2 linked regions of the Homo sapiens genome follow. The protein of the gene in region 1 purifies or fractionates together with the protein of each later gene. This does not show direct contact. Each region holds a gene or a part of one and is shown on either strand. Other genes may lie near its edges.

The links.
Region 2: the proteins of HSD17B14 (region 1) and SON purify together in Homo sapiens (affinity purification with mass spectrometry; one large-scale study listed by BioGRID and IntAct). This does not show direct contact.

What each region holds. Positions count from the first base shown.
Region 1 is NC_000019.10:48,826,492-48,829,991, reverse strand, and holds part of HSD17B14 (L-fucose dehydrogenase), read left to right. Parts: intron 1-3,500. UniProt on the Homo sapiens protein: Catalyzes the NAD(+)-dependent oxidation of L-fucose, yielding L-fucono-1,5-lactone, which rapidly converts spontaneously to L-fucone-1,4-lactone. Can also act on D-arabinose and L-galactose, with lower catalytic efficiency. Does not use NADPH.
Region 2 is NC_000021.9:33,574,038-33,577,981, reverse strand, and holds the end of SON (protein SON), read right to left. Parts: intron 2,387-3,944; coding exon 2,315-2,386; intron 2,205-2,314; coding exon 2,089-2,204; intron 1,618-2,088; coding exon 1,558-1,617; 3' UTR 501-1,557; downstream 1-500. UniProt on the Homo sapiens protein: RNA-binding protein that acts as a mRNA splicing cofactor by promoting efficient splicing of transcripts that possess weak splice sites.

The sequences.
Region 1 (3,500 bases):
GTCTCAAAAAAAAAATAATTCATTAATTAATTTTTAAAAAGAGCATGGAGTCCAGGCATGGTGGCTTACGCCTGTAATCCCAGCACTTTGGGAGGCCGAGGCAGGCGGATCACCTGAGGTCGGGAGTTTGAGACCAGCCTGACCAACATGGAGAAACCCCATCTCTATTAAAAATACAAAATTAGCCGGGTGTGGTGGCACATGCCTATAATCCCAGCTACTCAGGAGGCTGAGGCAGGAGAATCACTTGAACCTGGGAGGCAGAGGTTGCAGTGAGCTGAGATCGTGCCATTGCACTCCAGCCTGGGCAATAAGAGCGGAAACTCCGTCTCACAAAAAAAAAAAAAAAAAAAAAAGCCAGGCCTGGTAGCTCATGCCTGTAATCCTGGCACTTTGGGAGGCCAAGGCGGACAGATCACTTGAGGTCAGGAGTCCAACATGGTGAAACCCCATCTCTACTAAAAATACAAAAATTAGCTGTGCGTGGTGGCAGGTGCCTGTAATCCCAGCTACTCAAGAGGCTGAGGCGGTAGAATTGCTTGAACCTGGGAGGTGGAGGTTGCAGTGAGCTGAGATTGTGCCACTACACTCCAGCCTGGGTGACAGAGTGAAACTCTTTCTCAGAAAAAAAAAAAAAATTAGCTGAGTATGGTGGTGCTCCTGTAATCCCAGCTACACGGGAGGCTGAGGTGAGAGGATCACTTCAACCTGGGAGCTGGAGGCTGCAGTGAGCCGTGATTGTGCCACTGCACTCCAGCCTGGGCAACAGAGCGAGTCCTTGTCTTAAACAAGAATTGGGGGAGAGCTGGGGAGGGAATGAGAAAGAAAACAAACTTTTTTATCTGAGAAAGGAGAGCCCCTTTAGATGATCAGGATCAGGCCCAGAGGGGCTTTTTAACAACTTTTTTAAAAATTAATTAATTTATTTTTTGAGACAGAGTCTTACTCTGTCACCCAGGCTGGAGTACAGTGGCACAATCTCGGCTCACTGCAACCTCTGCCTCCCAGGTTTAAGCAATTCTCTGCCTCAGCCTCCCTAGTGGCTGGGATTATAGGCACTCACCACCACGCCTGGCTAATTTTTTTGTATTTTTAGTAGAGACGAGGTTTCACCATGTTGGCCAGGCTGGTCTTGAACTCCTGACCCCGTGATCCACCCACCTCAGCCTCCCAAAGTGCTGGGATTACAGGCATGAGCCACTGTGCCTGGCCTTTTTATTTTTTAATAGAGGTGGGGTTTCACTATGTTGTCCAGGCTGGTCTCAAACTCTTGGGCTCAAGTGATTCTCCTGCCTCAGCCTTTCAAACTCCTGGGATTACAGGTGTGAGCCACCGCACCTGGCTCAGAGGGACTTTATAAAAATGTATTTTAATTACTTTTTGAGACAGGGACTCACTCTGTTGCCCAGGCTGGAGTACCATCATAGCTCACAGCAGCCTCGAACCCCTGGGCTCAAGTGATCCTCTTGTATCAGCCTCCTGAGCAGCTGGGACCACAGGGGTGCACCACTATGACTGACTAATTTTTAACTTTTTTGTAGAGACAGGGTCTTTCTATGCTGCTCAGGCTGGTCTCGAACTCCTTGCCTCAAGCTGGGATTACAGGCATGAGCTACTGCACCCATCCAATAATTACCTTTTGAGGCTACTTGGTTTCTGGACTCTAGACGACCTGATACCAAGTAGCTCTAGAGTGTCACACACTCTATAGTTCAAACATGTATAGCCAATCACTAATCAATGTGATGTCTGTAAACCAATGACAATTCCTGATGAACAACTTTTGTAATCACCGCCTCTCTTGATTCGTCCTTTTTTCTTTAAAAAGTTGAGCCTTTGGCCGGGCGCGGCACCTCATGCCTGTAATCCCAGCACTTTGGGAGGCCGAGGCCGGCGGATCACGAGGTCAGGAGATCGAGACCATCTTGGCTAACGCGGTGAAACCCCGTCTCTACTAAAAATACAAAAAATTAGCTGGGCGCGGTGGCGGGCTCCTGTAGTCCCAGCTACTTGGGAGGCTGAGGCAGGAGAATGGCGTGAACCCGGGAGGCGGAGGTTGCAGTGAGCCGAGATTGCATCACTGCACTCCAGCCTGGGCAATAGAGCGAGACTCCGTCTCAAAAAAAAAAAAAGAAAAAAAAAAGGAAGGAGAAGGGTTGGTCACGGTGGCTCACACCTGTAATCCCAGCACTTTGGGATGCCAAGGCGGGTGGATCACTCATCAGGAGTTCAAGACCAGCCTGTCCAATATGGTGAGACCCCGTCTCTACTAAAAATACACAAAAAATTAGCTGGGCATGGTGGTGAGCACCTGTAATCCCAATTCCTCGTGAGGCTGAGGCAGGAGAATTGCTGGAACCTGGGAGATGGAGGTTGCAGTGAGCTGAGATTGCACCACTGCACTCCAGCCTGGGCAACAGAGCAAGACTCTATCTAAAAAAAAACGAAGGAGAAGAACACACATCAAAGCCTTTCCCTCACCCTTGCTTATGCAACAGCTGCACACAAACATCCACTCTCCATAACATCTTTATTCTCCGCATAGCACTTTTTAATTAATTAACTCAACAAATAGTTATATAGCACCAGCAACATGCGGAGCCCTGCGCATACAGCTATGAACACACAACAGAAGAAAATCCCTGTCCTTGCCAGGCACGGTGGCTCATGTCTTTGTAATCCCAGCACTTTGGGAGGCTAAGGCGGGCAGATCATGAGGTCAGGAGTTCGAGACCAGCCTGGCCAACATGGTGAAACTCCGTCTCTACTAAAAATACAAAAATTAGCCAGGCGTGGTGGTGGGCGCCTGTAATCCCAGCTTCTTATGAGGCTGAGGCAGGACAATCTCATGAACCCAGGAGGCAGAGGTTGAGGTGAGCTGAGATCACACCACTGCACTCCAGCCTGGGCGACAGAGCGAGACTCCATCTCAAAAAAAAAAAAAAAGTGGGGTTTTAGGTTTGTTCTCCCCACCTCCAGCAACTGAGCAACTGACCGGACAGAGCTGCCATTCACTGTGGCAGGAAAGCCTGGCGGGGGCGCTGTTGAACATGAACTGCCTGGTGGACGTCCTGGTGGGAATGGGCATTGGGCATGAGATCGTGGAGGTGGGGCTCTGGAGATACCAGCTTGCAGCTGACCAGTTTGAGGCTGGAGGAACTCAGGGGAGCAAGAGTAGGCAAAGAGGGGAGAGGCCTGGGGGCGGGCCCAGTGTCCAGGGAGCTTCAGGTGCTGACTCTGAGGTCGCATCCAAGATCCAGGTGAAATGTTCCCGGGAGGTTGGGCAATCCCCTGCTTAACCAGTGAACCCTGGCTCCTGTTCCAAATTTGTGTTGACTTTCTAGGATTAACCCAACACTAAAAACACCTCCACACATAAAACACACCTACACCTCAGCCCATGAAGAGTTAATATATGTGTGTGTGTGTGTGTGTGTGTGTGTGTGTGTATATATATATATATTTTCTTCTTTTCTTTTACTTTTTTTTTTTTTTTTTTT
Region 2 (3,944 bases), on another chromosome or scaffold:
AAATATGTTACTTTACGATTTACCTGTTAGCAGGTTCTTGTTTCATAAAGGTAGAAAATAAATACAGACAACATCTACTGAGCTAGTTGATTGGTGATGCTTCTACCTTAATATCTTTCCTACTGATTTATAATTCCTTTATTTTCACATATACTAAAACTTTTTAAATGCATGTTAATTCAGATAAAAAGGCATTTTGTATTCCACATAGAATAGTGTTAAGAATTGTGAAGTACACTGAGCTGTCACGGCAAAGTAGTATTTAATGTGCTTATAGGGGTGTGTGTGTGTGTGTGTGTGTGTGTGTGTGTGTGTGTGTGTGTGTGTGTGTGTGTGTGTGTGTGTGTGTGTGTGTGTGTGTGTGTGTGTGTGTGTGTAGGGGGGGACTGTATAATTCACATTTTTAAAATAAAAGTGCTTAAAAATCAAAAGCATTGGGTAAAGAAATAATAGTATCTAAGTATTTGTTCACTTTATAACCCAGAAAATAAAACACCACGTTTATTCCAGAGAAGTTTGTATTTGGGCCTTAAGCTTTTGAAAATAAAGTTTAGAGACATAGCATATGAATACCACTGTAATACACATGAAATATTCTATCAGACCCTAAAAATTAACATAAACTTTTAACTTTCTCATAGTCAACAAAATAGTGGCTGGTTGCCAATTTTATTAGATAAGTTGGTTACAGCATTTTAATTATCATTTTACGTCTATCTAGGTGTAGCTGAAATTCAAAATGCACATCAAAGTAAAACTATATCACAACTCAATGCCATACTAAATGTACTGGCCTCTGCAATAGAATTCTAGTCAGACTTCATTTTTTACTCCCTTCTTATGACCCAAGTGGCTTTAACAGGAATGCAGGACTTAGTGCTGATCATCACACAACATACCACTTTCTTTTTAGAACCTCTACAAAATTTTGAGGGGAGATGGTGGCATTAGCCCTGTGGAACAGATCTTGATCACCTCAATAACACTGGCCCATTATCTGTCCAGCAGAACCCATTGTGAAATAGTACAAGGTGCACAGCCCTTCACTGATTACAGGCAAGTGTTACAGTAGCCTAGCCATAAGGAAGGGGAGTTACATCATAGTACAAAATACAGTATAAAAGCGTTATTTAACATTCCACACTGAAGATTACTCTGATGCCTTCAAACAGTCGTTTGGATGTTAGCCACTTAAACAAATACATCACTAAGGTAAACAATATAAACATACCAAAACCCTGTATGGTTAAATACAATTTCCATGGTACAAAAATCAAAGCCTGGAGATGTTTTTACAGATTGCTTTTTACACAATGTCTTAAATTGCCAAATATTTACAACATTAAAGAGGAAATACATTGTGATGCAGAGTAAAATTCTGAAATGATTATTATAAAACCTCAATCTATCTACGTGAGGCACTCCTGAAGCAAGTGGCATTAGCCATGAGGTCCTTTGGTACAAGGCCCATTGCTTGAAGAACCACAGTAGCTGCTGTGGCTTTAGCATGCTTCTTATTAGGGCTGGCAAAGCTGGGCTGGTAAGCGCTTCCATTTATCAATACCTATTCAAGAAAAACATACAATTGGGTCTGGTAAGGGCTCCATTTCTCAATACCTATTCAAGAAAAACATACAATAAGAACAGCATCAAACTTTAATATCTATTAGCTTTGTATTTTTTCACTAAATGCTAGAAAAATAATTTACAAAAATATAAAACCCATACTATGTAAGTCAAATTATAATCTCAACCCGAAGAACCAAATCATTTGGGAAAGGGACTGCAAATTAGAGCAGGTCTCCAAATTGAGAAAAAGACTGACAAAAGTATTAAATTAATTCCCCACATTCAACTAGAAAATAACAATTGTATACTATATTTTACCCTTTTCCAATTTTTTAAAAAATAGGACATTGACAAGTCGTATTAAAGCACCCTTCAGTGTTTAAAAACCCCACCACTTAACTACAAATACAAACCCCCCACCCATGAACAGAATCTTAATCCTGTGATCATGTTTACCCCTCACCCTCTAAGTCATCACATTAATAAATATATATAATTAATGCAGAAATTCATATTTACCCTAAAGAGAAAATGTTTGCGATGATCAGGGCCACTATCATGGACCAATAGAAATTCAGGTGGTTGCCACCTTCTTTTATTACAGATCTCCATCAAAGCAGACACAGGATGTTTGCCTGCAGGGGGGAGAAATACCCAGTTTTAAATTATTTCCACCAACTTCTGCAACAAATAATGAATTCAAGGTGGGATTAGGGTAAGAGGAAATTCAAAAACGTGCTCTCACCTGACAGATCTTTCATTGCAGCAGAGAAGTTCCCAGACCTCTTTTGTGCTCTTTCTCCTACTGCAACAAGACCTTTAAAAAAAAATTGTTCACTAAATAAATTTCAAAGCACCACTTTAAAACAAAGATCCCTCTGTAGGAGTCTGAACCTCAAAATGTATGCCTTCAAATAAAATCAGCAGATTCCTAGTACACTCGATTTCTCTATCAATCTTCTCTTTCTTCTCTTTTACTGTTTTTCAGCATATAAATTTATATTTAATATTCATAGATCTTGGTATGAGAAATTGTAATAAATACCAAATGTAAACAGAAAACAAAAAGTTAAGTATGGCCAGGCACAGTGGCTCATGCCTGTAATCCCAGCACTTTGGGAGGCCGAGGCGGGTGGATCTCCTGAGGTCAAGAGTCTGAGACCAGCCTGGCCAACATGGTGAAACCCCGTCTCTACTAAAGAAACAAAAATTAGCCGGGCGTGGTGGTGCGCGCCTGTAATCCCAGCTACTCGGGAGGCTGGGGCAGGAGAATCGCTTGAACCTGGAAGCGAAGGTTGCAGTGAGTAAAGATCGTGCCACTGACAGCCTGGGCAACGAGCAAAACTCCATCTCAAAAAAAGAAAAAAAATAGCTTATTGCCAAGTGATTTCTGCAGATTTACTGTCTCTTAAAAAAATAAGCTTCAGTTAAGACTCTTCCAAAAAAGGTTAGGATTTTAAGCCACCAAAAAGGTGAAAACGGTTGTCTCCAAATAAAATAGGTCCCTTTTTTCCTAGCAAACTCTCCTCTCCCTTCCTAACAAATGGGAGATGTTCTCAAAATATGAACATAACCTTTCTACATAACCTCTCTCTCCATAGACTTATTACAAAGGGGATTAGCTACATTGCTAAACCCAAACACTGCTTTCCCAATTCATATACAGGTTGAGTATTCCTTATCCAAAATGCTTGGGACCAGAAGTGTGTCGGTTGATTCCAGGTTTTCAAATATTTGCATTGTATTTAGCGGTCAAGCATCCCAAATCTGAAGAGGCTGAAATCCAAAATGCACCAATGAGTATTTCCTTTGAGCATCATATCAGTATTCAAAAAGTTTTCTGTTTTAAAGCATTTCAGGTTTCCAGATGTGGGATGCTCATCCTGTATGTTACAGGAAATTTTTCAACCTTTGCTAAATAATTCCATGCTAATATAAGCTTTTCTAAACCTATCCTGGGAAATCTGTGGTTCTCTGAGAGCTTACAGTCAGGCCATGTCCCACAATTCCAAGGACAATGCTTCCTGAAATTGTACAATACTTAACATCAAAGTATTTGGTGCAGAGCTAGTTCATTTCCAAATTCATTAAGACAGTTTAACTATTGAAGTTAGCTTCAACTTACTGTTTGATTACAAAGATGAAAATAAATCCCAGTTTTACATTTGTCAGCTTTTATAAATGAGGTTTAAACAAGCTATACAAAAATCATACTGAGCTGGCAAGCCTCTCATGATTCCACTTACATTATTCCAAGGGAAGAAGTTATTTAAAAGACGCCAATTAGCTATCATCTGTGGGAATGATTAAATACTTAGCAACTACATACAAGCTACATAGAAGACACAGTGCTGCCCTGCCCAGGTATCTGAAGG